4 linked regions of the Homo sapiens genome follow. The protein of the gene in region 1 purifies or fractionates together with the protein of each later gene. This does not show direct contact. Each region holds a gene or a part of one and is shown in the gene's direction. Other genes may lie near its edges.

The links.
Region 2: the proteins of OLFM2 (region 1) and PEX6 purify together in Homo sapiens (affinity purification with mass spectrometry; 2 studies listed by BioGRID and IntAct, with this or other methods). This does not show direct contact.
Region 3: the proteins of OLFM2 (region 1) and LRIF1 purify together in Homo sapiens (affinity purification with mass spectrometry; 2 studies listed by BioGRID and IntAct, with this or other methods). This does not show direct contact.
Region 4: the proteins of OLFM2 (region 1) and KDM5C purify together in Homo sapiens (affinity purification with mass spectrometry; 2 studies listed by BioGRID and IntAct, with this or other methods). This does not show direct contact.

What each region holds. Positions count from the first base shown.
Region 1 is NC_000019.10:9,856,048-9,863,932, reverse strand, and holds part of OLFM2 (noelin-2 isoform 2 precursor), read left to right. Parts: intron 1-411; exon of another isoform or gene 412-554; intron 555-3,138; coding exon 3,139-3,288; intron 3,289-5,757; exon of another isoform or gene 5,758-5,836; intron 5,837-6,071; coding exon 6,072-6,218; intron 6,219-6,450; coding exon 6,451-6,670; intron 6,671-7,019; coding exon 7,020-7,126; intron 7,127-7,885. UniProt on the Homo sapiens protein: Involved in transforming growth factor beta (TGF-beta)-induced smooth muscle differentiation.
Region 2 is NC_000006.12:42,968,851-42,976,735, reverse strand, and holds part of PEX6 (peroxisome biogenesis factor 6), read left to right. Parts: intron 1-1,697; coding exon 1,698-1,861; intron 1,862-2,649; coding exon 2,650-2,733; intron 2,734-6,748; coding exon 6,749-6,851; intron 6,852-6,934; coding exon 6,935-7,068; intron 7,069-7,750; coding exon 7,751-7,862; intron 7,863-7,885. UniProt on the Homo sapiens protein: Component of the PEX1-PEX6 AAA ATPase complex, a protein dislocase complex that mediates the ATP-dependent extraction of the PEX5 receptor from peroxisomal membranes, an essential step for PEX5 recycling.
Region 3 is NC_000001.11:110,946,923-110,954,807, reverse strand, and holds the end of LRIF1 (ligand-dependent nuclear receptor-interacting factor 1), read left to right. Parts: intron 1-1,992; coding exon 1,993-3,520; intron 3,521-4,684; coding exon 4,685-4,957; intron 4,958-6,408; coding exon 6,409-6,849; 3' UTR 6,850-7,618; downstream 7,619-7,885. UniProt on the Homo sapiens protein: Together with SMCHD1, involved in chromosome X inactivation in females by promoting the compaction of heterochromatin.
Region 4 is NC_000023.11:53,194,074-53,201,594, reverse strand, and holds part of KDM5C (lysine-specific demethylase 5C), read left to right. Parts: coding exon 1-45; intron 46-2,436; coding exon 2,437-2,618; intron 2,619-2,649; exon of another isoform or gene 2,650-2,706; coding exon 2,707-2,831; intron 2,832-2,957; coding exon 2,958-3,105; intron 3,106-3,718; coding exon 3,719-3,824; intron 3,825-4,550; coding exon 4,551-4,909; intron 4,910-5,540; coding exon 5,541-5,679; intron 5,680-6,106; exon of another isoform or gene 6,107-6,184; coding exon 6,185-6,364; intron 6,365-6,526; coding exon 6,527-6,664; intron 6,665-6,856; coding exon 6,857-7,456; intron 7,457-7,521. UniProt on the Homo sapiens protein: Histone demethylase that specifically demethylates 'Lys-4' of histone H3, thereby playing a central role in histone code. Does not demethylate histone H3 'Lys-9', H3 'Lys-27', H3 'Lys-36', H3 'Lys-79' or H4 'Lys-20'.

The sequences.
Region 1 (7,885 bases):
TTACAAAGAGGGGGTTCCCCCCATTTAGGAAGGGTGTACAAAGGCTCGAAGAATGACTGACTGTAATAGTTTCAGCTGGCGTTTATGAATGGTTTGTTTTCCTTATAGATTAGTGGGGGAGTCAAGCTCATCTGTATAATTTGTACAATTATATCATTTGCTCATATTCCAATAAGCCTTAAAAAAAAAAAGACTCGATTGAGTGGGAGAGAAAAAGGTGGGCTAATAGTTGGAGTCCCCGGGATCGCTCATAATTCACAGCTTGGTTTATCTGTGCTGCAGCTCACGGCACCGATTCTGCTGGGAGATCTAGTAATGGCTGTGCAAATGATCAATGATTGTGGTGCTTTGTTTCTCTGTAAAACACTGGGGTTTTTTTAATCAGAATTTCTTCCATGCCTGTCAGAATGCATCCTGGAATAGGACCAGAATCTTCCATTTACCGCCTCTATGGCCACCACCCATCATCACCTGTCTGGATCTGTGCAGTCACCCCTGCCCTGGCCTCCCTCCCTCGTTCCCTAGAGCAGCCAGAGGTCACTGTGAACACCCAAGTAAGGTCACGTCTCGCCTCTGCACAGAACCCTCCATGGCTCCCACCTTCCTCAGGGCAGAACCCAGAGCCCTCACTGCTTCCCACAAGGCCTTGCCCCATCACCTCCCTTCTCTCATCTGCCTCCACTTACCCCTTACTCAATCTGCTCCAGCCACATGGGCCTCCTCCTTGTTTCACAAACACACCAGGCATGGTCCTGCCTCAGCCTTTCTACTTGCTGTTCTCTCTGCCTGGAACCCCTTCCCCAGACATCCAAATGGCTCCTCCCTCACTTCCTTCAGGTCTTGAACAAAGACTTCAGGTTTTGAACAAACGACGCCTACGTGTGCAAGCCCAAGCCAGTCACCCCACAACCCTCACGTCCCCCCACATCCTTTTTTTTTTTTTTGAGACAGAGTTTCACTCTTTTGCCCAGGCTGGAGTAAAGTGGTGTGATCTCGGCTCACTGCAACCTCGGCTCGCTGCCCCCACCCCGCCAGGTTCAAGCGATTCTCCTGCCTCAGGCTCCCAAGTAGCTGGGATTATAGGCGCACATCACCATGCCCGGCTAATTTTTGTATTTTTAGTAGAGACGGGGTTTTACCATGTTGGCTAAGCTGGTCTGGAACTCCTGACCTCAGGTGATCCACCTGCCTCCACTTCCCAAAGTGCTAGGATTACAGGTGTGAGCCACCGCGTCTGGCCTGTTTTTTTTAAGAGATGGGGTCTCACTCTGTCACCCAGGCTGGAGTGCAGTGGCACAGCCATAGCTCATTGCAGCCTCAACTTCCTGTACCCAAGCAATCCTCCTGCCTCAGCCTTGTGAGTAGCTGGGACCACAGGTGCATGCCACTACATCCAGCTAATTTTTTTTTTTTTTTAATTTTTAGTATAGATGAGGTCTTGTTATGTTGCCCAGGGTGGCCTTAAACTCCTGACCTTCAGTGATCCGCCCCCTTCAGCCTCTTGAAATTCTGGGATTACAGGCGTGAGCCACCATTCCTGGGTCCCTCCAGACATTGATCAGGATTTGTAATGATAGAAATGTCCCCTGCCTTCTCCTTTTCTTCTGTCTCACTCGTCCCTCAAGTTCATCTCAAGAGCCCATTCTCTTGGATACCTCCTCAGAGACCCTCAGCCTGAGGGAAGACCCCCTGTTACTCCCTGCACTACTTCTTCAAAGCACTCACTGCAGCATGTGGTTCTAGAAGTATCACTGGCATTAAGTGGTTGATGTCCGTCTCTCCTAGTAGCTCCATGGACAACCACCAGATGTTTTCTTCATTCCTTCTCTTCCTTGATCCTATCCCAGACCCTATGCCTGGGACAGAAGAGACTCTCATGGATATCTTCTTTTTTTTTTTTTTTTTTTTTCTTTGAGACGGAGTCTTGCTCTGTCGCCCAGGCTGGAGCGCAGTGGCGCAGTCTCAGCTCACTGCAACCTCCGCCTCCCAAGTTCAAGCCATTCTCCTGCCTCAGCCTCCCATGTAGCTGAGATTACAGGTGCCCGCCACCATACTTGGCTAATTTTTGTATTTTTAGTAGAGATGGGGCTTTGCCATGTTGGCCAGGCTGTTCTCAAAACTCCTGACCTCAGGTGATCCACCTGCCTCAGGGGTGTCTTCTAATCAGTTTGGAAGTTTATGATTTGTGTCTAGAGTTCCCTGGTACTTATTTGCATTTCTAAGCCTCTGATAAGTCCTGCAGTAACAAAACTTGTTTCACCCAGTGACACACATTTATTTGACCACAGAGCATCCTTTTCCCAGCACACCTGGTAAGATTACCAGTGTTGGAAGGAGTATGGCTTGGGAAACAAAGCCATAATTGGTCACTGGATTATCTGAGCATTTTGTCTGCCATCACTTTGCCTGGGTGGCTCCAGGTGAGGTGGGGGCACAGCAGGGTTGCACTTAACATTTGGTGGCCCTGATGGCCGGGCACGGTGGCTCACGCCTGTAATGCCAGCACTTTGGGAGGCTGAGACGGGTGGATCACCTGAGGTGAGATCCTTTTTTTTTTGTGAGACAGGGTCTCACTCTGTTACCCAGGCTGGAGTGGAGGCCAGGTGTTGGAGACAGGCGGAGGTTGCAGTGAGCCCAGATCGCGCCACTGCTCTCCAGCCTGGGTGACAGGGCAAGACTGTGTCTCAAAAACAAACAACAACAAAAAACAAACCAAAAAAAAAAAAAAACATTAAGTGGCCCTGAGATAGCTCCAGAGCCGATATGTCACTGTGGGCTGGGGAAGCAGAGAGGAGGTCCAGGTTTGGGGGTTATTTGAGTGGATCTCTGTTCTAATGGCAGTCACAGAGACAGTGTTGTGTGCGTGCAAATCTGTGTGAGAGAATGAATTCTGGTCTTGGAGAAGATTTGAGTCCTCCAATTCCTTGCCGTGTTCCTTAAGCCCTCCGCACCTCAGTCTTGCCATCCGTGAAATGAGGCTCCTTAAGGAGGGCCTGAGATCACACACAACAGGCACTGGCATATGCCCGGAGCCCAGCAAAGGGCATCTGTGGTTTCCTTGGGCCCCCTTCCTGTCCCAGTGAGGGCGAGGCGAGACCCTCACTGGGATTCCGGTCTCTGACCCCCACCTCTTTGCAGACTCTCTTCCAGAACCCAGAAGAGGGCTGGCAGCTGTACACCTCAGCCCAGGCCCCTGACGGGAAATGCATCTGCACGGCCGTGATCCCAGCGCAGAGTACCTGCTCTCGAGATGGCAGGAGTCGGGAGCTGCGGCAACTGATGGAGAAGGTGAGAACCTTCCAGGTACCCTGGGGGCAGCTGGGAAAATCTCCCAGTTCTCACCCCGCCCTCCAGCCCCATCCAGGTCAGCCAGTGGCCATATCCAGCTATGCAAATTATTCAGAGCTGGCTGATAATCCAGCTCCTCTCCAGGCAGGTCCTTTTTTTTTTTTTTTCCTTTTAACACAGGGTCTCACTCTGTTACCCAGGCTGGAATGCAGTGACATGATCAGCTCACTGCAGCCTCAAACTCCTAGGTTCAAGCAATCCCCACTCCTCAGCCTCTGAGTAGCTGGGACTACAGACATGCACCACCATGCCCTAATTTTTATATTTTTTGTGGAGACGGGGTCTCCCTATGTTGCCCAGGCTGGTCTCAATCTCCTGGGCTCAAGTGATCCTCCTGCCTCAGCCTCCCAAAGTGTTGGGATTACAGGTGTGAGCCACCATGCCCAGATGGATACTTTATCCAATATCTGTTCAATGTATTTTTTTTTTTTTTCTCCTTGAGACAGTCTCACTCTGTCGCCCAGGCTGGAGTGCAGGTGCAGTGGCGCGATCTCAGCTCACCGCAACCTCCACCTCCCAGGTTCAAGCAATTCTCCTGCCTCAGCCTCCCGAGTAGCTGGGATTACAGGCGTGTGCCACCACGCCCAGCTAATTTTTTTATTTTTAGCAGAGATGGGGTTTCACCATATTAGTCATGCTGGTCTTGAACTCCTGACTGCAGGTGATTTGCCTGTCTTGGCCTCCCAAAGTGCGGGGATTACAGGCGTGAGCCACTGCGCCCTGCCTGTTCAATGCTTTTTTGGGAGAGAAGCCAAGCACTTACTGGGATTGGGGTGGGGGGAAGGAAGGAAGACTGGAGGGGCAGCATCTGAGTCTCCTGTGTGTGAGCTCTGGTCCACCAGGCATGTCCCACCCAGCTTTGCAGTTCACCAGACTCACCTACTAAGAAGGAGTTCTGTGCCCCTTGGGGAGGGTCTAACCCTCCACCTCAAGAGGCTCCTATAAAAGTTTCCTTCTACCTCTGATCATGGTCAAGAGAAAATAGTCCCCTGGGCCGGGCGTGGTAGCTCACGCCTGTAATCCCAGCACTTTGGGAGGCTGAGGCATGTGTATCACTTGAGGTCAGGAGTTTGAGATCAGCCTCTACCAAAAATACAAAAATTAGCCGGGCGTGGTGGTGTGTGCCTGTAGTCCCACCTACTCGGGAGGCTGAGGCAGGAGAACTGCTTGAACCCGGGAGGTGGAGGTTGCAGTGAGCTGAGATGGCACCACTGCACTCCAGCCTGGGCAAGACAGAGCAAGACTCCATCTCAAATAAATAAATAAATAAATAAATAAAACTTACAAATTGTTGATTTCTGGAATTTCCCACTTAATATTTTTGGACTGTGGTTGGCCTCAGGTAGCTGAAACGTGAAACTGTGGAGAAGGGAAGAGTATGTAAAAATGTTTTGTGGCGTTCAGGGTGGGTATTAGGCTGCTGAGTTTCTGGGAGTTTCCAAGTGTCATGTGAATAATTGTACAGGAAAGTCTGTATTTCAACAAGCATCCAGTGGTAACTCTGACTGAGTTTACCTTAGCCAGGCAGAGTCCACTTTAGTCAGGTGAAGCTGGTGGGAATCTACCTTAGCCAGGTGAGAGTCTACCTTAGCCAGGTAAAGGTCTACCTTAGCCAGGTGAGGGTCTACCTTAGCCAGGTGAGGGTCTACCTTAGCCAGGTGTTCATCTTAGCCAAGTGAGAGTCTACCTTAACAAGGTGGGAGTCTACCTTAGCCAGGTGTTCACCTTAGCCAGCTGGAGTCTACCTTAGCCAGGTGAGAGTCTACTTAAGCCAGAGATGGAGTTCACCTTAACAAGGTGGCTACCTTAGCCAGATGTTCACCTTAGTCAGATGGGAGTCTACCTTAGCCAGGGGGAGTTCAACTTATCTAGGTGGAGTTCACCGTAGCCAGGTGGAGGTGGGAGCTGGGTGCTCTCAGGTTGGGTCAGGAGAGGCCAGGGCAAGGGAAGTTTATTTTACTCATTCAGCCAAAAAATACTTATTGGGCCTCTACTCCAGGCCAGTGCTGGGCACTGGAGGTTAAGCTGTGGACAAGCTAGACGCAGCCTCTGCCTCTGAGGGTCCCACCTGAAGGAGGCAGATGGATAAGAATGTTCTACATAGTCACAGCTGGGAAGGAAATGACCAGGCAAGAGGAGAGTGAGTGAGCGGCTACCGGACAGGGTGGTCAGGGAAGGATGCTTTGAGTGGGGGACGCTGGAGCTGAACCCTGAAGGATGAGAAGGAGCCAGCCATGGGAACTTGGGGGAACAGCACTCCAGGTAGAGAGACCAGCAAGTGCAAAGACCCTGCAGAAGGAAGGAGCTTAGAGTCTGTGAGAACAAAGAGAGAGGAAGTGGGTTGGGCGGGGGGGGTGGGCAGGACCAGCCAGCACAGGATCTGTGGAGGAGGAAGGTGATCTAATCTCTGTTTTGAAAGTTCCTTCTGTCTGCTGTGTAGAGAATTGACTACAGGGGATGAAGGTGGAACTGGGAGACTAGGGAGGAGGTGAGAGGTGGTGGTAGGTGGACCAGATGGGAGCCAGTGGGTAGTAGGGAGGGAGCGATGGATGGATGGATTGGGCACGCAATTGGGAGGCTGCTGGTAAGCTCAGGGGAGGAGAAGGTGGCCTCGTCGGTGTGGTGTTTGTACAGCCTCTGTTCCTGCCAGCTCTTGTCTGTGGCATCTCTGGGTTGGGATTTGGGGAAGGAGGTCTGGTCCCTTCAGTTGTCCCCATTCCTAGGTCCAGAACGTCTCCCAGTCCATGGAGGTCCTTGAGTTGCGGACGTATCGCGACCTCCAGTATGTACGCGGCATGGAGACCCTCATGCGGAGCCTGGATGCGCGGCTCCGGGCAGCTGATGGGTCCCTCTCGGCCAAGAGCTTCCAGGTGGGTCCTCCTGTGTCCAGACCAGAGGTCAAACAAATGACTGGGATTTGGTATCCATTAGTTCCTACAATGGAGTCATGTCTGGGAAGAATCTAGGGTCCAATATGAGCCACATGTCAAGGGCCAGGTGTGCATCAAAGACAAAGGGTGAAGTTATGAGTCAGAGGTTGGAGTCATGTCTGGGTCAAAGGCCAGGGGTCAGGCTTGGCCATGGTTCCATCTTGATGCACAGGAGCTGAAGGACAGGATGACGGAACTGTTGCCCCTGAGCTCGGTCCTGGAGCAGTACAAGGCAGACACGCGGACCATTGTACGCTTGCGGGAGGAGGTGAGGAATCTCTCCGGCAGTCTGGCGGCCATTCAGGAGGAGATGGGTGCCTACGGGTATGAGGACCTGCAGCAACGGGTGATGGCCCTGGAGGCCCGGCTCCACGCCTGCGCCCAGAAGCTGGGTATGCCTTGGCCCTTGACCCTGACCCCTGATCTCTGACTGCCACACCCAACTCCAGTATCACCTGTTTGTGCCTAGAAGCTGGACACAGTTTTGACCTCTAACTTTTAAACCTCAACCCTTGACCTTCCTACCTAAGGCTACACTTGAGTCCAGAAGCTGGAAATGGCCCTGACCCTTGGCCTCTAACCCCTCACTCACAACTGAACAACATATTGGGACCAGATTTTTGAGTCTTCCCTCATCCCTGGTCCCAGCTTTCCCAACTTGATCACAGCACTTCATCTTTGCCTGGCCTCTCTTGGGCTGTTCATTTCCCCATCCTCATTCCCCCTGTTCCTGCCTCCCAGGCTGTGGGAAGCTGACCGGGGTCAGTAACCCCATCACCGTTCGGGCCATGGGGTCCCGCTTCGGCTCCTGGATGACTGACACGATGGCCCCCAGTGCGGATAGCCGGGTGAGTGACTGCGCCCACCCCTGGGGTCAGGGCCTGGGAGGGACAGAGCCTTTGACTGCCCATAGGTGCCTAGGGAGTCCACACTGGTGACTGTCTTGTAGCCCAAAGTGTCCTGGATCCCCCAGGGCCATTGGACCTCCCTGTCCAGTAACCCCCAAGTGACCAAGGGCTTTGCAGCCTTGTGAATCCCACTCTGTTGACCTCCAGTGTCTGTATAGTGGCTAATGGTTACTGAGTTCTACTGACCAGTTCTCAGGGACTACTGACGTCCAAGTAACTACCCAATGACCAATGCCCTCCCAAGGACAAGAGACCTCTTCCACCAAGCACTGCTCAGTGACCTTCGGACTTCTAGTAGCTTCCATGGTCATGACTGCCCATCACTTAGACACACAAGAACCATCCATGAGGCTGGGCATGGTGGCTCATGCCTGTAATCCCAGCACTTTGGGAGGCTGAGGTGGGCGGATCACCTGAGGTCGGGAGTTCGAGACCAGCCTGACCAACATGGAGAAACCCTGTCTCTACTAAAAATACAAAATTAGCCGGACATGGTGGTGCATGCCTGTAATCCCAGCTACTCGGGAGGCTGAGGCAGGAGAATCACTTGAACCCTGGAGGCAGAGGTTGCAGTGAGCCAAGATCGCACCATTGCACTGCAGCCTGGGCAACACGAGTGAAACTCTGTCTCAAAACAAAACAAAACAAAAACAACAACAAATGCTAGTTAACATGATGACAACAATGATGTTGATGACA
Region 2 (7,885 bases), on another chromosome or scaffold:
AAGACTCACCAGTTCGCCATAACAGACATAAGAGTGACAAAAAAATAAACCTTCATTGTGTAAAAAAAAAAAAGGCCAGGCGCAGTGGCTCATGCCTGTAATCCCAGCACTTTGGGAGGCTGAGCCAGGCAGATCACTTGAGGTCAGGAGTTCGAGACCAGCCTGGCCTACATGGTGAAACCTCATCTCTACTAAAAATACAAAAATCAGCCCAGTATGGTGGTGCACACCAGTAAACCCAACAACTGGGGAGGCTGAAGCAGGAGAATCGCTTGAACCTGGGAGGTGGCAGTTGCAGTGAACCCAGATCACACCACTGCACTCCAACCTGGGTGACAGAGCAAGATTCTGTCTCAAAAAAAGAAAAAAATGAAAGTTGTGTTTAGGGGGACAAATACAGTATAGTGTTTAATTAAGGACCTAGATATATGGTTTAGATGGTGCTGTCCAATATGGAAGCCACCAGCCACTTTGTGGCTTTTTAAATTTTTAAATTTAGTTAAAACTAAATAAAGTAAGCCTGGCTAACATGGCGAAACCCCATCTCTATTTTAAAAAATACAAAAATTAAATCCCAGCACTTTGGGAGGCCAAGGCAGGCAGATCACAAGGTCAGGAGATTGAGACCATCCTGGCTAACACGGTGAAACCCCGTCTCTACTAAAAATACAAAAAAAAAAAAAATTAGGTGTGGTGGCACATGCCTGTCGTCCCAGCTACTCTGGAGGCTGAGGCAGGAGAATCCCTTGAACCCAGGAGGCGGAGCTTGCAGTGAGCCGAGATGGTGCCACTGCACTCCAGCCTGGGTGACAAGCGAGACTCCATCTCAAGAAAAAAATAAAACCCACAAAAATTAGCCAGGCATGGTGGTGCACATGCCTATAGTCCCAGCTACTCAGGAGGCTGAGGCACAAAGAGAATCATTTGAACCCAGGAGGAAGAGGTTGCAATGAGCCGAGACTGTGCCACTGCACTTCATCATGGGCGACAAAGTGAGACTAAGTCTCAAAAAAAAAAAAAAAACTAAATCATGTTTTTTAGTTGCTTTAGCTACATTTCTTTGTTTTTGTTTTGTTTTTAGCCACATTTCAAGTGCTCAATAGCACATGCAGATATAGACTATTCCATTGTAGAGAGTTCTACTGGGCAGTACTAGAGTAACCAGTTAATACTTTGGGATGTCAGGTAGAGATACATGTGAAATACATGTGAAAGGGAGTGGATGTAGGTTTCCTCCTGAATGGAGGAAAAACTACTGGGGTACTCAAGAGTAGAGCTCATTGAACCAACCAATGACTGAACCAACCCGTTCAGCTTTTCCCACAGCCTGAATTCAGTTTCCCCACTAATGACCACTTAATGTTAATCCCTGTGGATGCCTGGTGTCACTAATAGGTCTTGTGGGAATAAATGTCTTTACCATTTCACTGGCTCTGGGCCAAGTTGAAAGTGTCACAGAAAGGTTATCTTTACTGAGAAAATTTTTTGGAGCCAGAGTCGGGATAGGAGGTGATATTCTCTTCCTGGTACCCATTAGAGGGAGAGGTTTTCAGGTCTGCTACCTCAGGCCCCACCTTCCACAAGCCTTGTGGTTATGGGAAAGACAGGATGGAAATAGACATGTTGGCTGCTGAGAGACAGGTTAGAGCCTGCCCCCTTAGGAGAAGGTTATAACGTGGTGGTTATTTCTCTAATAGAGGTACTTGGAAGGCTCCATCGCCCCTGAAGACAAAGGAAGCTGCTCATTGCTGCCTGGGCCTCCATTTGCCAGAGAGTTACACATCGAAATTGTGTCTTCTCCCCACTACAGCACTAATGGAAATTATGACGGTGTTCTTTACCGGCACTTTCAGATACCCAGGTTAGCTACCTAACCTTTTAAGGAGGATAGCTTCTCACCCTCATTACATTCCTCCTATCCCATGCCTTAGAACCAAGTACCCCAGAGGCCCTGGTTAAAAGAAGCCACATTTGCGGCTAGGTGCTGTGGCTCACGTCTGTAATCCCAGCACTTTGGGAGGCCGAGGTGGGCGGATCATGAGGTCAGGAGATTGAGAGCATCCTGGCTAACATGGTGAAACCCCGTCTCTACTAAAAATACAAAAAAAAAATTAGCCGAGTGTGGTGGTGGGCGCCTGTAGTCCCAGCTACTTGGGAGGCTGAGGCAGGAGAATGGCGTGAACCCGGGAGGTGGAGCTTGCAGTGAGCCGAGATCGCACCACTGCACTCTAGCCTGGGCGACAGAGCGAGACTCCGTCTCAAAAAAAAAAAAAAAAAAAAAAAACAAAAAAAACATTTCAGACAGATTGTGGTAGGCGCCTCTTGGTATATCAGGGAGACCACAGAAGAGAAATCTGAACCATGAGGTTAATTTGGACATTCCAAACAGAGACACCTGTGATTAAAGAGGGCTCCAAAAGAGCCAGGATCCTGCTCTGCCACTCATCTGTCTCTGATCCCCCTTTCTAGTCTCTCCACCATTTCCCCTAGCTCATCCTAAGACTGACTTGTTCCTTGGAGAACTGCGTGGGATCTCTGGGCGGGCAGTAGACTCAAGAAGTAGTCTGCATGTCGGGGGTGGACATGTGGTAATGAACACATGCTCATTACTCCCATTGTGACCTGACCAGGGCCACTGCTGTGTTGCAGGGTAGTCCAGGAAGGGGATGTTCTATGTGTGCCAACAATTGGGCAAGTAGAGATCCTGGAAGGAAGTCCAGAGAAACTGCCCAGGTATGCAGCTGCCTTCTGTCCTACAGCTGGGATTTGTAACCTGGGTGCATGAGTTCTACAATCCCCTCCCTGCAAATCATGTGTAATTTGTGCCCAAGAGGATTTCGTTGTCATGTATTTTGTGTGTGCGTGTGTGTGTGTAACAGGTTCTTGCTCTGTTACCCAGGCTGGAGTTTAGTGGTGCAAACACAGCTCACTGCAGCCTCTACCTCCATGGCTCAAGTGATCCTCCCACCTCAGCACTGCCTCTGCCCCAGTAGCTGGGACTACAGGTTCGCATCACCACGCCCAGCTATTGGTTTTTGTATTTTTAGTAGAGATAGGGTTTCGCCATGTTGACCAGGCTGGGCTCGAACTCTTGAGCTCAAGTGATCTGCCTGCCTTGGCCTCCCAAAGTGCTGAGATTACAGGTGTGCACCACTCACCCCCAGCCTGTGTACATTTTTTTGGAGAGAAAATTCACCTGTCCTTCAGTTCCCAAACAAGTGTATGACTGAAGAAAGGTTAAGAACCAGTCAGGCATGGTAGTGCATACTTATAATCCCAGCTACTCAGGAGGCTGGGCAATATAGCTAGACACTGTCTCAAAAAACAAGCAAACTAAAAGAACCACTCCCTGCTGGCTTTGGGAGGTGTTTATCCTCAAACTGACTGGTGGCCCTATGTAAAGCAAAGCACTAAGAAGAGTTTAGGCCAGGTGTGGTGGCTCACGACTGTAATCCCAGCACTTTGGGAGGCTGAGGCAGGCAGATCACTTGAGGTCAGGAATTCAAGACCAGCCTGGCCAATATGGTGAAACCCTGTCTCTACTAAAAATACAAAAATTAGCCGGGTGTGATGGTGGGCATCTGTAATCCCAGCTACTCAGGAGGCTGAGGCGGGAGAATCACTTGGACCTGGGAGGCAGAGGTTGCAGTGAGCCCAGATCGCATCACTGCTCTCCAGCCTGGGTGACACAGCAAGACTCCATCTCAAAAAATAAATAAATAGGTAAAATTTAAATTCTTTTCTTTTTAAAGAAGAGTTTAATGGCCTAGACCAAGACGGGATTCCTTCCTTTCCGTTCTTAGCCTTCGTGTTATTTGGACCAAGACTTGGGCCATACCATCCATATCTCAACGTAAGGATATACAGGCTCTGATTTCTGCCTTAACTACGGAGTGTGCACAAACTACTTCTCAATCCTATCTCTGAAAACAGGAGAGGGATTTCTCTTTTTTTTTTTTTTTTTTTGAGACAGAGTCTTGCTTTGTTGCCCAGGCTGGAGTGCAGTGGCGCAATCTTGGCTCACTGCAAGCTCCGCCTCCCGGGTTCATGCCATTCTCCTGCCTCAGCCTCCCAAGTAGCTGGGACTACAGGTGCCCACCACCACGCCCGGCTAATTTTTTGTATTTTTAGTAGAGATTGGGTTTCACCGTGTTAACCAGGATGGTCTCGATCTCCTGACCTTGTGATCCGCCCGCCTCGGCCTCCCAAAGTGCTGGGATTACAGGCGTGAGCCACCGCACCCAGCCAGGGATTTCTATTGTTTTTGAGAGGGCTACCCTGTCCTATCAACAGAGAATGAGAAATAGAGCATAACCGAGCCAAGAACCCAAAATAAGGAATCCAGCTTTTCTCCTCTTGTTGACTCTGACCACAGAGGTTCCATGTAAAATGGTGAGGCAAAGAATTGAGACACTGCTTTAGCCTTATGTGTAGGGAGGAAAATGTATAGCTCTGTATCCCAGCATTCCCTGTATTCTGGACTCATTTCCTGCAGCAGTTTACTAGAAGGAGAGCACAGCTGATAGATGCACTAACTCATACATAAGAGCCTTCATGTCCAAGGTCTGTGGCATAGCCAGCCTGGGTCCTCTGCCAGGAGAGACAGTCCTTGTTTGGAGTGCCTGATGTTCATCCCTGGTCAATATCCAGTGCTTGGTTCTGGCCAGTGCTCAGTACCCCCAGTCTCAGGGTGGTGGTGCTCTGTGGAACCCCATTTAGGCTCCATGTCACCTCTTCGAGGTTTTCCAGATTAAGTCCACGAGTCTGGTGGAAAATGCCAGGCTGGCACTTAGCAGTCACTTCCCACCTCTCTCTCCTATCATAAATTTAGCAAACGTCTTTGAGCTAGCTTTCAGTAGGAAAACTACAGAATGCCCACTCTTTGTACTTTCAAAGGAAAATAGGCACTAGAACCTCATGAGACAGGCTGGCAAGCCAGTTCTGTTCCTGAACTTCTATTGTCTCAACTCTGTAGAACCCTGCTTTCCTCCTGAGTGCCGAGCACATAGTTCTTTTCCCCGCAAGGAAAGCAGGGTTGGAGTAAGTGGCCCAATGGGTCCAAGGACAGATACAGATGAGCGTTTTAAGCTGCACTGGGCTTGAGAAGGGAAGCCCTGCAGAAGTTCCTGTGAGCCCTGGAAAGGAATTCCACTGTTGGTGTAGCCTCTTCATCCTGTCCCTGGTGCTCCACTTCCCCAAACCAGGCTGCATGGGAGCCAGCTCCACTATCACCTATCTGGCTGGCTGGAGCACAGCTCAGTGTTCCTTAGCAGTGTCCACATAGGTTCCAGAGCTCTGGCCTTTCTATTCACTGAGGTGGTCCAACCACCCTCCACTGAAGAAGGTGGTCTCTCCCTATGCCACAGTGCTGTCCCCCATCTCATTCCTATGCAGGGCTTCCATGGTGAGTCATACACACCATGACTCAGCTGTTGAGCTTGATCGAGATCCTAGGTTAGAGGCCCACTGTCACCTATTTATAATTAATTATAGGCAGATTCAGGCTTCCTGATGTTCCAGGTTTACTGTAGTACTTAGAAGAGTTTCATAATACTAACCTGGTATGCTTCCCCTCCACCTTGCTGCACTCTCACACCCCTTTGCTGCTAGAGAGAGCAGCTTTGAGACTGTGGGGCAGTGTGAGCAGAGGAATTTGCAGCCTGATTGGACCTTAAAGAGGACTAGGTTATAGCCTGACTCTGTCATTGCCTTGCTGCCTGAGGATTAAAGAGGGAAGTAGTTCATGATTTCTTTATCTGGAAAATTGGGTTAGTAGCTGTTCCTGCTACCCATCCTATTCCCCGTTAGTAGGTTGAATAACCCTAACTCACTATGACACTCGCCAACTACTGCGCAGCCCTGGTTATGCATCAGAATTGCTGGGGAAGCTTTCAAAAAATACAGGTGCCTAAGCCCCACCCCAGATCTATTGGGGCAGAATCAGGGTGAGACTGGAGCCTGTGCTTTTTTTCCTTCACAAAGGAAGGAGAAAGGTTAATTTTAAAAACATAAAATTCACACACCATAAAACCATACTTTTAAAGTATACAATTCAATTTTTTTATTCATAAGGTTGTACAGCCAACATCACTGTTTCATTCCAGAACATTTTCAACATCTCAAAAAGAAACTCTGCACCCATTAGCAGTCATTCCCTGTAGCTTCCCTCATAGGCAATGGCAACTGCTGATCTGCTGAATAGAATCATATAATATGTGAGAAATGTTTAGTTTTTAAAGTTACACAGATAATTCCAATGTGCAGCCAGAATACAGAACCATTATTCATCAGATGGCATTATTAAGGACTCCGCCTGCAATGAGATTTTGTGGATTATTGAGTAAGAGCCAAGGGACCCTTCCCCCTAGGGTTTTTGGGGCCTGGATGGCTGTGTATTTGAGGGGGAGACCGAAGCCAGTAGAAGTAATCAGATGATCCACTGCTTAGTGCAGCAGCAGCTTCTCCCATTGGTGTGGGTGGGTAGGCCACATGCCTGGAGAAACACACCCCCTCAGAGCTCTCATGGCTGTCATGGGGGATGCAGAGGGACAGGCATAGCTCTTGCCCTCAAGGTGTGTATGGTCTGTCAGGAAGATGAGAAAGTCCATCTGCATTCCTTTTCCCCACCATGACTCGGGACACGCTCTTGTGGTGCTTTTGTTTGTCCTCTGTGATTGAGAAACCTTGTCCTTGAGGAGGGGGGTTTTTGGACTCTGGATCTGGGGTTCATTGGGCCTTTTTCCTGCAGGTGGCGGGAAATGTTTTTTAAAGTGAAGAAAACAGTTGGGGAAGCTCCAGATGGACCAGCCAGTGCCTACTTGGCCGACACCACCCATACCTCCTTGTACATGGTGAGGCCCCAAGGATGGGTGTAGACCAGCGCAGGGGGTAGAAACGATTTTTAGAAACGAAAGCTTTTTATTACCTTTCACAGGTGGGTTCTACCCTGAGCCCTGTTCCATGGCTCCCTTCAGAGGAATCCACTCTCTGGAGCAGTTTGTCTCCTCCAGGCCTGGAGGCCTTGGTGTCTGAACTCTGTGCTGTCCTGAAGCCTCGCCTCCAGCCAGGGTGAGTGAGGTCATCACCCCAGGGTGTGAGAAAAGCCTGCTTAGAACATCCCTGGAGGAGCAGCAGCCAGATGGGTAGTTCCTAATGAACTGGCCAGAGTGGGATTGGGAGGACCTTCCTCAAACCAGTATGTCCTACACAAGGCCACCAGGCCACTCCTTTCTGTAAGCCAATTCCCAGGCTCCTTTCCTGGGATAACCTCTGTCCTCCAGGGCTGGCTCTGGAGGAAGAATCTCCAGCAGGGGCATCTGTTTCTGAGACTGCCCTTCCCCTTGGGGAGCTCACTGGCCATCCTGCACTTTACTGCCCTGGCCCTGAAGGACACAACTCCTCATACCAGTGGCCCAGGTGTGGACGCAGATCCCCACCTCAGTGCCACCACAATGTCTCTCAATACCATTCAGACCAGTCATAACGTTGAGGTTTTATTGGCAGCACAGCAATGCCAAAGGGAATTAATTAGTCTTTGGCTGTTGGATATGCTGGATGCCCCGGCCAGAGCACCGCAGGTGGTGTGGGAGACACAGCCTCACTACATGGGGACAGCCCTGTCCTGGGGTCAGGGAGGCTCAAGGAGAGAAAAACAGGGTATCTGCTTTCTAGATCTAAGGGATCTTGTGTTACTGGGGACTCTAATGTTTGGGCAAAATGAAGGAGACGAATGTCTGTTCTCTGGTTGCAGGGGTGCCCTGCTGACAGGAACTAGCAGTGTCCTTCTACGGGGCCCCCCAGGCTGTGGGAAGACCACAGTAGTTGCTGCTGCCTGTAGTCACCTTGGGCTCCACTTACTGAAGGTGAGGGTCTCTGGAGAGTAGAA
Region 3 (7,885 bases), on another chromosome or scaffold:
TAAAAATCAATTAAAATATAAGAATGCACAGAAACAGAGTGGGCCAGATTAGGCCCAGAGGCTACAGCTTACTGACCCTTTTTTCCTGATGAGCCTGGTGCTTAACTTAAAACAGACACTTGGTAAATTTTTGTGTAATGACTTAATATTGAATATGTTCTTATCCAGGTCAAATGTGCTTTTCTTGTGGTGCAGGGAGGTAATAAAGGTAGATTTTTCCTCTTAAAACCCTGAAAGCAAGAATTCATCCTTTTCTTTGGGTTTATTCTCTTTAGAAGTTAACTTTTAATTTATTAAAAGTCAGTGTGTGACCAGCCTGGACAACATAGCAAAACTTTGCCTCTATAAAAAATACAAAAATTAGCCGGGTTTGGTGGCGTGCATCTGTGGTCTCAGCTACTTGAGAAGCTGAGGTAGAAGGATAGCTTGAGCCCAGGAGGTGGAGATTGCAGTGAGCCAAGATTGTACACCTACACTCCAGTCTGGATGACAGAGCCGGGCCCTGTCTCAACAGCAACAATAACAAAATGTCAATGTAATATTTTGACCCACTCTCACGTGTCCAAAAGACTTTTAAATTTTTGTAAGGATATAATAATGTTATTCGGGCTGCAGAAAGGTAAACCAAATTTCTACGGATACATAGAATTTTGGGTATTGATTTTTATTAATACCTGAGAGTTTTAAAAACATACCTTTATGCTTTTGAGAATCCTAATTATTATCGTTATTATTTGCCCTTGAACTTTTGTATTTATTTGATCTTAGTTATCTAAGACCATGCTAGGTCTATGGTATATGGATGCTGCACTCATATTGGTAGAATATAATATGAGAGACAGTCTATAGACAAACATATTAATATATGATGACAATCTATGATATATACCATGAAGGAAGCTAACAAGCATAATGTTATGGATTAATTATGAAGGAAAGACAAGGATAAAGTGGTCAGAAAATGTATCTCTTGAGAAATATCATTTATGCCAAGACTTGAGCTATGTGAAGAGTTGAGTTGGGTGAGGCGTACCTAGGTAGAGTGATAGTATGTGTGACATGAAAGCTCAATATTTCCCAGGAGCTGAAAAATGTTTTAGATATAAATAAGGTAAGGTATTTACATTCAAGTAATCTCCAAATAACTAATTATGCAAACAGAGATTAGTATATATTGATTTTTCTTAAGATTAGACAGTCTATACTAAGAAATAATTCAAGGCATGGGGGTCAGAATTGATTCAGTTAAAAAAAATTGATTTCCAGTCTGTTCCACATTGATTGAAAACCATTCAGCTGAAATTGCAGTGGTATTATATGTATGGGTTGATAGGTGATTGACAATTGACTAATATAAATAATTGCTATACCAGAGACTATGTAGCACTAAACCTCAAATGTGCTGAAACAGTAATCAGAAGAAAATGATTCCTATGTAAACAGTTCAGTGAAATCTATAGCACAAAAATGTGGCAAACTAAGGTAACACCATGAGAGATAGCTTAGGCAAAAGAAGAATGGCTGGCAGAACTTGTGAGTTATTGAAGGAAGAAGACAGAACAGATTGAGGGGGAAAAGAGAGAAATGGAATAAGAGTAAGGGGAGAGGGAATGAGAATCTTCAGTTAGAGTAGAGGAGGAGGACAAGAGGAAGGAATTCAGGGAAAGGGGGAAGGGAGGATGCTAATATTTTAAGAGGAGCTTACTTTAGTAGTATAATTTTATATAGGGCAAAACCTTAGAAATGTCTACTTTTAGTCTTAGGAATAAATGTTATTATCTCATACCCATTGCCTAATCATATAAGCAGTTGACTATATCATTATCTCTTCTACTTCAAAATATTTGTTTTGCAGTCTTTCACTTTAAAAACTCAAAATGGAAAATTATATACTTTATTTTAATATTTACAAATATTTACAAATATTTATTTTTAAATAAAATGTATATACCATGTAGTATGTTGTATTTATTTACTCAATGTTCTTTTAAGTGTTTCAGGCTGCATGTACCAAGTAGTTCAGACGATTGGCTCGGATGGAAAAAATCTTCTGCAATTACTTCCAATTCCTAAGTCTTCTGGAAATCTTATACCACTAGTTCAATCTTCAGTCATGTCTGATGCTTTGAAAGGGAATACAGGAAAACCAGTTCAAGTTACTTTTCAGACTCAGATTTCCAGCTCTTCCACAAGTGCATCAGTTCAATTGCCCATTTTTCAGCCAGCCAGTTCTTCAAACTATTTTCTTACAAGAACAGTAGATACATCAGAAAAAGGTAGAGTTACTTCTGTGGGAACTGGAAATTTTTCTTCATCAGTTTCTAAAGTTCAGAGTCATGGTGTGAAAATTGATGGACTCACCATGCAAACATTTGCTGTTCCTCCCTCAACACAAAAAGACTCATCTTTTATTGTAGTTAATACCCAGAGTCTTCCAGTGACTGTGAAGTCTCCAGTTTTGCCTTCTGGGCATCATTTACAGATTCCAGCCCATGCTGAAGTGAAATCTGTACCAGCGTCATCATTGCCTCCTTCAGTGCAGCAAAAGATACTTGCAACTGCCACCACCAGTACCTCAGGAATGGTTGAGGCCTCCCAAATGCCAACCGTTATTTATGTATCTCCTGTAAATACAGTGAAAAATGTAGTTACCAAGAACTTTCAAAACATTTACCCAAAACCTGTTACAGAAATAGCAAAGCCAGTAATACTAAATACCACACAAATTCCAAAGAATGTTGCTACAGAGACACAATTGAAAGGTGGTCAGCATTCTCAAGCTGCTCCAGTGAAATGGATTTTCCAAGATAATCTACAGCCTTTTACGCCATCTCTTGTTCCTGTTAAGTCTTCAAATAATGTGGCTTCAAAGATTTTAAAAACTTTTGTAGATAGGAAAAATTTGGGAGATAATACTATAAATATGCCACCATTGAGTACCATCGATCCTAGTGGGACGCGATCCAAAAATATGCCTATTAAAGATAATGCTTTGGTTATGTTTAATGGGAAAGTCTATCTGTTGGCTAAAAAGGGGACAGATGTTCTGCCATCACAAATTGACCAACAGAATTCTGTTTCTCCTGATACTCCAGTAAGAAAAGACACGTTACAGACAGTGAGTTCAAGTCCAGTCACAGAAATATCCAGAGAGGTTGTAAATATTGTTTTGGCTAAAAGTAAATCTTCCCAGATGGAGACAAAATCACTTTCCAATACCCAGCTTGCTTCCATGGCCAATCTAAGGGCAGAGAAGAATAAAGTGGAGAAACCATCTCCTTCTACCACAAATCCACATATGAACCAATCCAGTAACTACTTAAAACAGAGTAAGACTTTATTCACAAATCCAATCTTTCCAGTTGGATTTAGTACAGGACACAATGCCCCCAGAAAAGTAACAGCCGTCATTTATGCTAGAAAAGGAAGTGTCCTCCAGAGCATAGAGAAAATAAGTTCCTCTGTTGATGCAACAACTGTTACTTCACAACAGTGTGTTTTCAGAGACCAAGAACCAAAGGTAATTTTCCCATGTCAGGGTGCTCTTTTTATATATCTATATAGAAAAGTTTGTTTTCTTAATTCTCAAAGTTATCTATGATACCTCTTTCCCCCACTGCCAACCCCATCACACACAGACTATACACATATGAGTATTTAAGTCAAAACTTCCATCTGAGCAAATTTGAGGAGGAGTACAGTTGGGTACAATCTTGTACAAAGGAGTACAGTCTTTCTCTTGAATCACTTGGCATGCCAAATCTTTAAAACAAAAAATTCACAGAGCAAAAAGGTTTAGAAGAGTTGGGGAAGGATAATGTGAATTCAAAGCTTAGTAAAAATATGTGAGTATATGTATATACATACATGTATATATGTATGTTCATATATAATAGCCTTTTTAGTATATGAGGAGATCAATATGCATGTAAAAGAGTTGGTTTTGGGGTTTTGTGGGGTTTTTTTGTGGTGGTGGTGGTGGTATACCATGGAAAAGGTGAGACAGGGCTAATCAATACCTTTCAGTAATTTGTGGAAATAAGATTTTATCAGCATCTTTGATGGGTTGATTTTTTTTTTGGTAGACAAATTTCATTTTCCTTTTTATTAGCTCTTTGTGACTCCTCAGCCAGTTACCCAACATGCCCACATAGTTACCTTTATGTTCGACTTAAGGTTTGTCTGTCTGTGTGCTTACTAGATATTTGTACCCATCTTTTCCTTGCTTACTTAGAGGTCTACTCAATAATGTCAGCATTTCTCCCCTTCAGTACAGAATTCATTGAACTCCAGAGATGTAAGGAGGTAAATTCTGATTGTTCAATACAAGATCGATTAAAGGCATGTGTGACTTTTCCAGAAGACTACAATTTCTAAATAATGTCATATATGTTATTTTAACGTTGTCATTAGTCTGTATTCTCATTTTAGTTGTTTTAGAATTGACTACTTATTACCTTTCTAGTGCAACAAATTAATTGAGAAATTGTAGGGGGGAATATTTTAAGTTTGTACTTCCTTATATTCAGTTTTTTGAGTGTGGGTGGTAAGGCAAGGATAATACAAACCAATCATAAAGCATGATATGTTCTTTTATGTAAGATGAAATAATCACTTAGTTGCTTAATAAAGTAACTTGAATAATTAGCAGTATTGTTTGTGTGTTTTCTTTTCCTAATTCCAGATCCATAATGAGATGGCATCAACATCAGATAAAGGTGCCCAAGGAAGAAATGACAAGAAAGATTCTCAAGGAAGAAGTAATAAGGCATTACATCTGAAGAGTGATGCTGAATTTAAAAAGATATTTGGCCTTACTAAGGATTTGAGAGTGTGCCTTACTCGAATTCCTGACCATTTGACCTCTGGAGAAGGTTTCGATTCCTTTAGCAGTTTGGTAAAGAGTGGTACTTACAAAGAGACAGAGTTTATGGTGAAGGAAGGAGAGAGAAAACAGGTAGGTAATACATTTTAATGTGCTCTTCATAGGTACTACAAATGATACATGAATATTACTTTTCTTGATTTGGTTTTAACCCTTGTGCATTAGTATAAATGATGGTTGTTACTGGTTTTGCAAATACATAATACCAAAATGATATTTAAAACAACCAGGCCCCAGCACTTTGGAAGGCTGAGGCGGGTGGATCACCTGAGGTCAGGAATACAAGACCAGCCTGACCAACATGATGAAACCCCGTCTCTACTAAAAATACAAAAATTAGCTGGGCCTGGTGGTGGTTGCCTGTAATCCCAGCTACTCAGGAGGCTGAGGCAGGAGAATCACTTGAACCCGGGAGGCGGAGTTTGTAGTGAACCGAGATCGCACCATTGCACTCCAGCCCAGGCGACAGGGCAGGACTCCATCTCAAAAAAAAAAAAAAGAACCAGGCCAGGTGCAGTGGCTCACGCCTGTAATCCCAGCACTTTGGGAGGCTGAGGCGGGCGGATCACGAGGTCAAGAGATCGAGACCATCTTGGCCAACATGGTGAAACCCCGTCTCTACTAAAAATACAAAAAATTAGCTGGGTGAGGTAGCACGCACCTGTAGTCCCAACTACTTGGGAAGCTGAGGGCAGGAGAATCGCTTGAACCCGGAAGGCAGAGGTTGCAGTGAGCTGAGATCGCACCACTGCACTCCAGTCTGGCAACAGAACGAAACTCTGTCTCAAAAAAAAAATTATATATATATAAACACCGCCCACCCCACACACACACACGCACAGGTAAAAATGCATCCCAGTTAAAGATATGTTTTAATTTTTTTTATTCACCTACTACATTTTTTTCCCATTATGTTACAAGAAAATGGCCATAGCTTTTTAACTAGTCATCCTACTTTGAGGACTCTATCTAAAGGAAATAATTCAAATGTAGTAGAAGATATAAGCATGCATATGTTCTTAATAATAACCTTTTAAGCAACTTATATAGCTAATAATGATAAAAAGAAATGTCTATAACTTTGCCTACTGTTATACTTTGACTTATGAGTATGTCATTATCATGTAATATTCTGAACTTTAGATCAGAGACTAGTAAACCTTTTCGAATGAAAATCCTCCATATGTGCCTGCTGTGCAAAGGAAAAGAAAAAAACAATCAATTTTATATCTCAGGCACTTTACAAGTGCTATTATATTTCTGTGGTGAGTCAGTATGCCTTCTAATACTTGACTTGAGCAAGAAAATGTGAATTAGGCAATTTCTTCTTACTGAATATGATTAAGACATTTTGGTACCATACAGTGGGAAATATTTCCCTCTTGCTGTAGTTGTCTTCCATAAATTTTGTTAATTGTAATAGCTAGATATTTGTTTCTGCAGACGTTGTTAAGTTTGGTAGTACCCGGTGCATTTAGCAGTAACATTTCGTTTTTGTTTTGGAATGTTATTCAATATTGCAGCAGAATTTTGATAAGAAAAGAAAAGCAAAAACTAATAAGAAGATGGATCACATAAAGAAGAGAAAAACAGAGAATGCTTATAACGCAATCATAAATGGGGAAGCTAATGTCACCGGTTCCCAACTCCTAAGCAGTATTTTACCAACTTCAGATGTGTCACAACATAACATTCTCACGAGTCACAGCAAAACCAGACAAGAAAAGAGAACTGAGATGGAATACTATACCCATGAGAAGCAAGAGAAAGGCACTTTGAATTCAAATGCAGCTTATGAACAAAGTCATTTCTTCAATAAAAATTATACCGAAGATATTTTCCCAGTGACACCACCGGAGTTAGAAGAAACCATTCGAGATGAAAAAATAAGAAGACTTAAGCAGGTGCTGAGAGAGAAAGAAGCAGCTCTTGAAGAAATGCGTAAGAAGATGCACCAAAAATAAAATCTCCTGTAAAGACTTCAGTGAAATAGCTGTTTTTTAAAATATACTTCAGCATTAATAAGTTAATTGTAGGTGTGTTCTGAAAGTGTCTTTGAATATGAAGCTTGTTTTTTCATCAGTCGATTGTACAACTTTAAGGAATACAGAAAAGGTTGATTCACATATGACTTGTGAATAATTTACATGGGGTATCTATACCTTTGTCTTAGATACCTTTTTTTGGAAGGATAAATTTTATATTTTTCTATTATTTTAACTAGAATTCTCCAAGTTTGAATATTTGGGCAGGGTTTTTGTTATTGTTTGTATCTTTACCTAAATTGCTCAGGCATTATTCCAGCAGTAGATAGTGACTGTGTATTACTGAAATTTTACAATTCAAGAGAGGAAATCAGCTCCAAACTTAGCTTTTCCAGTGGATTTGTATATGTACTTGCTTTATCTCTTTACCCTTAAAATGATGATACCTTGTATTCACCATTGTTTTTTTTAATGTCGTGAAATAATATGTATTATGGCAACATTATTTAAACATTCAAACATTTCTCAAGAATGAGCAACATTTGTAACTTTACAATGTAATTTTATATAATCCAAAGGTATTTTAGAATTCAGGCCATTTGATGTTTTGTTTGCTTATAGTGATGTGTTCCCAGGCAAATGCTGCTTTTTTTTTTTTTGGGACTATGTACATACGTTACTGAGATTGTGTAAAAAGTAGATCCTGAACAGTTATCACATTTAATATTTCTTAAACTGTAAAAGTGTATTTTCTCTGTCTGGTTAATCTTTGATTTGGGAAAGTTTGGGAATGGTGTAGGGATAGGGATTAAGAGATGGGGAGTTAGCTGAGCGTGGTGGTGTGTTTGTAGTCCCAGCTACTCAGGAGTCTGAGTGGGGAGGACTGCTTGAGCCCAGGAGTTTGAGGCCAGCCTGGGCAGCACAGTGAGACCCTGTCTCTTAAAGGAGGAGGAGGAGAACAATGTTATTAAAAAATGATCAGGCCGGGTGCAGTGGCTCACATCTGTAATCCCAG
Region 4 (7,521 bases), on another chromosome or scaffold:
ATGGTGCAAGAAGAGCGGCGTCTACGAAAGGCCCTGCTGGAGAAGGTGGGGAGAGTACCCCAGATCAAGCACCCTATTCTGGTGGAAGTTCGGGGAGGCAGAGGCAGCACCAAGAAGATGTAGCCTCTACTCTTGGCGTATAGTGAAAAGAACTAGATGCATCTCGATTGAAAACCACATACCATTCTCTGCTATACCCTTTACCAGCAACCTTAAGTCGATTTACTTCATTGTCAGTTTTCCCCTCTGAAAAATGGGATTATGATAATGCTTATCTTTTTGGATAGTTGATTGTATTAAAGATAATGTTTGCTTAGTGACTGACCCATGGCAGGTACTGGTATAGCAGCTATTTATCATTATTTACATGACCTAGCAAAATAGACTGGCATATGAAACCTCACTGCTGATTATCTAGGTGACTGTATCAAGTTACTTGATCTTTCATATCTCACTTTCCTACTCTAAAGTGGGAATAAATACCTAACTTGCAAGATGTAAGGTTAGAGTAAGGTGATTTATATGAAAGCCATCTCTCTAACATTGCCTTTGCAATGTTGCAGCTGCTATTATTGGTAATGTTAATACATGAAGAAACTGATTGAAATTTGGAATGTTTCTCAGGAATTGCCATTTTATTACATGCAGATGGTTTATTAACTCCAGCTAGGGCAATAATATTACCAAGCTGAAGGTGGTCCTGCTTTAATTGATTTCTTGTAAGCTTGTGTCAGTTGTGTGTGTAGCTGAGTGGAAGCTGCTACAGAGCTCTAAAGTCCACTCGTGTAGTTTCAGCCATCATCTTCAAATTTCACACTTGCCCAGTTAGGGAATTGACTTTGTGAGAGTCTTTCATAAGATTACAAAGGAGTGCTGGTTCTGTGGGATCCCTTGCTGCCTATCTAGGGTAATACTTTCTTATTTTAAAGCTCATTTATAGCTTTCCTGTGAGTGTGGGCTATAGGGAGAACTATAGCTACAGTAGTGTTGGAAGTCTGGGGCCTCTCAGTCGTGGTGTAAGTTGTTGAGTCCCTGGGCTTTTCCAGGCATCATTTTCTCACTCTGTTCAGTACTGTTATTAAATGATGGCCGTGTGGCTGTGCCAAGCTGTGGGAAGGAGCCAAAGCAAGGTGGGGAGAATAGACCTTCTCATCTTGACATTCAGAATTCTTCACACTTGGCCCTTACCTCAGAGAAGCATTCTGGACACCATAGTCTTGGAATCCTGTAAGAGATTGTATGTGTATTTAAGTATGTTTCTGGGAAGAGGACTTATAGTTTACATCCAATTCTCAGGAGTCTGTAGTCCAAAAAAACCCTAGAGACTTCATCCTTAGAATATTCTCTGGCTTTAGAGTCAAAATTAACTCAGTTTGGCAAGTTACTGACCCTGAGACTTAGTTTCTGCCTTAGTAAAATGAGATAGGCCTGTGGAATATATATTCTTATCTGAAAATTAGAGCTAATAACAGTAAATATTTGATGAACACTGAATCTAAGTGCTGAGATACTTGTCTGATTCCATAGCTGCTTTATTTTTGTTAATCCTCATAACAACCCAACAAGGATGATACTGTTTATCTCCATCTTACTAGATAATGAAACAGACCCAGAGACGTTAAATGATTTACTCATGATCACACAGCATATAAGTGGCAGAGTGGGATTTGGGCTCATAACTTATGCAGAGATTAGGTGTTAAAGTTGGTATGTAAGACAAAAACTGTTAAGAGTTGACATTTCCCATTAAAATCCCTAAAATTGCCCATTAGATATACACACTGGGTTGTCTCTCGATTACTCCAATATAGCCAGCTTTTCCTTCATTTTTGAAATGGATTGCTTTTTCTTTATCTGAGCAACAGATGAAGTCATTGGATTAGGTTTGGAAACCATATTGTTGGGAGAAAATTATTATATCTCTTTAAACCCTGAACACAAGCACATACGGTTGAATTTCTCTAAGTTATATATGTGCACAAGTATCTCCTGCCTACTAAGTGGCCAGCGTGGTGCCTGGAACACAGTGGGCTCTGAGTAACTGGAAGCCGATATTGTTCCCCAGTACACATAACTAGCCAGGCCTGTCCCTTGGCCACTTGCACTCATTGCCACCTCTCTGGTATCTTGGTCCACCACTTTCCTCACTTCTCACCCACAAGACCCTTTCTGCTGATCTGGATCTTACCTGATTTTTCTTCCTCTATAAAATTATCTGACTCAGCGCACACTGATCTTGCCCTGGTTTATCTGATTCCCCAAGCTTTGAGAGTCTAGACTTTACAAAGGGCAGGTATGCTCCCTGGGGTTTGGCCTCTTAAACCCCATGACCCTCAGCATAGATTTGAATCTAAAGTAGGGGTCGGTGGTGGCTGAGATGGAGGATTTTGCTACCTGGTTCTGGTTATATATAACGCATAGGTTAAATGCCCTTAGGGTATCACAGAGGCTGAGCGAGAGGCTTTCGAGCTGCTCCCAGATGATGAGCGCCAGTGTATCAAGTGCAAGACTACGTGTTTCCTGTCAGCCCTGGCCTGCTACGACTGCCCAGACGGCCTTGTCTGCCTTTCCCACATCAATGATCTCTGCAAGTGCTCCAGTAGCCGGCAGTACCTGCGGTGAGCATGGGCCTTTCTGGAGGAAGTGGGGCAAGAAGGAGGATGGAGAGCTGGGCCAGACATGCTCTTGCCTGCCCTCTTCCTCCAGGTATCGGTATACCTTGGATGAGCTTCCTGCCATGCTGCATAAGCTGAAGGTTCGGGCTGAGTCCTTTGACACCTGGGCCAACAAAGTGCGAGTGGCCCTGGAGGTGGAGGATGGGCGGAAGCGCAGTGAGTGATGGGGGGGATGGAGGGACTCCACAGGCAAGTTCTATTCCCTTTCTTCTGTACTCTGACCCCCTTCCTCTGCCTCTATTCAATACTGCCTACTCTTTGCTGCCCTCATTTTTCTTCCAGGCCTTGAAGAACTGAGGGCACTAGAGTCTGAAGCCCGTGAGCGGAGGTTTCCTAATAGTGAGCTGCTGCAGCAACTAAAGAACTGCCTGAGTGAGGCAGAGGCTTGCGTGTCCCGAGCTCTGGGACTGGTCAGCGGCCAGGAAGCTGGGTATGACAGCGTGAGGAGTTAGGGCACACATAAGGTGCTGAGGATCCAGCACCGAGGAAAAGTGCTGCAAGGGGTAGACTGTGAATACCATTTGGCAGAATGGACATCAGCAGGAAGCTGCCAGGCACAAGAGTGTGAGATGGCCTGGAAGGTGTTGGGGGGGACAAGGAGACCAGGCCACCTAAAAAGGAGAGGAGAGCCTCTGTGATAAGAAAGCTAGAAGTGTTTATTTTTTATCAGTACCTGGAAGTGGCCTGAGAGAGAGGCTGAGGGGTTTTGTGGGCAGGGAAGAGTTGTGGGAGGCTTACGGGTAAGAACAGGACAAAGATGTATAGACCTGATCCCTGCTAACACAGCTTTAGAGTTCACAGTAGAGGATGGATTGCAAAGTGTAGCTCTTATTACAACCCATTAGTTTCTAATTCTTTCCCCTCATAATATGAACATGCTCTATAATTTAAAACCTTCCCTCTAACCTGGGCAATTGGGGCAAATTTGAAATATGCGAGATCAAGGTGGACAGGTGTAGTGAGGAAAGGTGTTCAGTCTTAGCATAGACATGGAGGGAAGGCACTGAGTTTGGACCTGAAACCTCACATGTGATACTTCATAGCCCCCACAGGGTGGCTGGTCTACAGATGACCCTGACTGAGCTCCGGGCCTTTCTGGACCAGATGAACAACCTGCCTTGCGCCATGCACCAGATTGGGGATGTCAAGGTGAGGACGCTTGGAGTGCTGATGAGGGATCAAGGGGACCAGGGGACCTGAGCAGCAGGCCATGCTTGGCTCCTTTCAAAAGCTTAAAGTGTTCAGGCAAGACAGGACACACGTGTGAGAAAAGAACAGGTGGGAGGGGTGAGGCAAGGGTCTAGTGACTTGTCTGTTAGAAATGGGCCTTGAGGGTCAGGTGGCAAGGGTATGGGTATAGGATACAGAGTCCAGGTAAGGTTTCCTGGAGGAGGGGTAGAGGAGAAGGAGGTAACAGGGGTGCTTGTTGGGCTTGGAAAGTGGAGGGAAATTCATGAAGGTGGAGGAGGAGTGAGATGGAGAGGGCAACAGACCCCAGGGTGGTGAGCACAAGGGTTTATGTGAGGACTAATCATAGCAATTTTTAGGGCAGGGAGGTCTCTTGGTGCCCTGAGAACAGAGCCCTCTGAAAAGTTAAATAAAGCATAGATTAATAATTATTAGTTAATTAAGAATCTCTCAGGGTGGGGCCCAGGAATCTGCATTCTTAAATTCCCCAGGGCATTCTAATGAGCAGTCAGTGTTAGGAACCCCAACTGTCTTAGGGCTTGGAGAAGGAGAGCTCAGCCCATGTTAGGCTCCTTTGCCCCAAAAGCTTGGAGGGTAAGAAGATAGGTGGGACAAGGTTCCATCTGGTGGTGGAACCCCTCAGTGGGCCCAGCTGAGGAGTTTGTTCTTCATCCTGTGTCCTGGTAGGGTGTTCTGGAACAGGTGGAGGCCTACCAGGCTGAGGCTCGTGAGGCCCTGGCCTCACTGCCCTCCAGTCCAGGGCTACTGCAGTCCCTGTTGGAGAGGGGGCGGCAGCTGGGGGTGGAGGTGCCTGAGGCCCAGCAGCTCCAGCGGCAGGTGGAACAGGCGCGATGGCTGGATGAGGTGAAACGCACACTGGCCCCCTCAGCCCGAAGGGGCACCTTGGCTGTCATGCGAGGACTGTTGGTCGCGGGTGCCAGTGTAGCCCCTAGCCCTGCTGTGGATAAAGCCCAGGCCGAGCTGCAGGAACTGCTGACCATTGCTGAACGCTGGGAGGAGAAAGCCCACCTCTGCCTGGAGGCCAGGTAGGTCCAGCTGCTGCTTCCCTTCCCTGCCCTATTCCAAACATCAAAGTTGAGTGGAGACCCAGAAGAGGATGCCCATGGGTGGCCTTAGGTATCACGCTCCTGTGTTACTGTATTGACTCTCCCCTCTTTTGTTGTCTATCTTGTCGTTTTTTTAAAAAACAACTCTGTATACTTAAAGGCAAAGAGAGGCTGATGGAGAAGCAGAAATGGACAGATAGAGATTATCTAGAAGACTAGCCCTACAGGCTAATGTGCGCATACCCAGAAGCACAAGTGACAGGCAGATGGGCAGATGTTGGTAGAAAGACCCCACACAGGGCAGTTGACAAACTGCAGCAACAGATTACACAATACAGGTTGTATATGTAGGCATTGCTAGCAGGCCAGCAGACTGGCAGACAAACAGAGGTGCAAGAGCTGTGGCAGAAGGGATGAAGTTGGGTGCATGCAGTCTTGGGGAAGCAGGGACTGGCAGCTACCCTTAGGTGGAATACAAGCAAGTAGGCCCAAGTGACAGCAGGAATAACAGACACCCAAGGGGCCCATGCAGATATATCTGGTGGTCAGGCTGGGCTTCTGGTCAGGCAGACCACATCAGACTGAGCGTTCTTTTTTTCCTTACCTTTAGGCAGAAGCATCCACCAGCCACACTTGAGGCCATAATCCGTGAAGCGGAAAACATCCCTGTTCACCTGCCCAACATCCAGGCTCTCAAGGAGGCTCTTGCTAAGGCCCGGGCCTGGATTGCTGATGTTGATGAGATCCAAGTGAGGACCCTGCCACTCCCACCCCAGGCCTTCAGTCCAGCTGGGAAGAGATGGCATATACACTGGGATGTGCTGGGTTGCTGGGATGGGTTGGGTTGGCTGGAGAGAGGAAGGGGGCATGGCATGTAGTCAGGAGGCAAGATGTGCCTGATGAGCAGGGTGAGAGGAAGAGTGTGAGGCTGGCCTGAAGGAAGAGAGGGCACTGGTTAGGATGAGATTGGTGGGCCAGGGAAGCAGGTGGTATGGGACTGAGCAGGGCAGGGGCATGGAGGAGAGGAGAAGAGGCAAACCACAACAGAAGGCTGACTAGATATTTGGGGCTGAGCCAGTCAGTAGATGCCGGTGTTGTGGGAGAGAGCCAAGTGGTTGTTCCTTAGGATGACACCTATTTTTTTAATCCCTCAAGACTGAGCCCAGTTCATCTTTCCAGCTCAGGGCCAGGCACAGAGTAAGCATCAATAGCATTGGCAAGTTGAACTGAGCTGTCTCTCGCCCTTGGCCTTAGAATGGTGACCACTACCCCTGCCTGGATGACTTGGAGGGCCTAGTAGCTGTGGGCCGGGACCTACCTGTGGGGCTGGAGGAGCTGAGACAGCTAGAGCTACAGGTACTGACAGCGCACTCCTGGAGGGAGAAGGCCTCCAAGACCTTCCTCAAGAAAAATTCTTGCTACACGCTGCTGGAGGTGAGGCCTGGGACCTTGACCTACAGCGTCTCTTAACGCCTGCCCTGGCTTCTGTGAGATGGCTCATGAGATAACATGGGTTTTGTAGGGGCACCAGGGAGGGAAGGAGGCGGGGGATGTAAGGGAAGCCCAGTCATTCCCTCTCTTGTCTGCCTGCCCCAGGTTCTCTGCCCATGTGCAGATGCCGGCTCAGACAGCACCAAGCGCAGCCGGTGGATGGAGAAGGAGCTGGGGTTGTACAAATCTGACACAGAGCTGCTGGGGCTGTCTGCGCAGGACCTCAGGGACCCAGGCTCTGTGGTAAGGAGCTTCGACACAGATGGGGAGAAGGGCTTGGTGATGATAGAGTGTCTGAGCTGGGTGGCCATGAGCAGACCGCTTGTCCCCTGAGCCTCAGTTCTCCTGGTTTGGGAGTGGGGGTGTTAAGGGGGGGCCCAGAGAAGGGAAGGGGTAGGCTGCTGACCCACTTTGCTCCTGTCCTGGGTATGGCAGATCGTGGCCTTCAAGGAGGGGGAACAGAAGGAGAAGGAGGGTATCCTGCAGCTGCGTCGCACCAATTCGGCCAAGCCCAGTCCACTGGCATCATCGAGCACGGCCTCCTCTACAACCTCTATCTGTGTGTGTGGGCAGGTGCTGGCTGGGGCGGGAGCTCTGCAGTGTGACCTGTGTCAGGACTGGTTCCATGGGCGGTGTGTGTCAGTGCCTCGCCTCCTCAGCTCTCCGAGGCCCAATCCCACCTCATCCCCACTGCTGGCCTGGTGGGAATGGGACACCAAATTCCTGTGTCCACTGTGTATGCGCTCAAGGCGCCCGCGCCTGGAGACCATCCTGGCACTGCTGGTAGCCCTGCAGAGACTGCCTGTGCGGCTGCCCGAGGGCGAGGCCCTGCAGTGCCTCACAGAGAGGGCCATCAGCTGGCAAGGCCGCGCCAGGCAGGCTCTGGCCTCTGAAGATGTGACTGCTCTTTTGGGACGGCTGGCTGAGCTCCGCCAACGGCTACAGGCTGAACCTAGACCTGAGGAGCCTCCTAACTACCCTGCAGCCCCTGCTTCTGACCCCCTCAGAGAGGGCAGTGGCAAGGATATGCCTAAGGTGAGCTACTCAGCCCAGCTCTTGTCCTCAGATTCTTGTCTCCTAGCCCCTACCCCAGTTTAGGC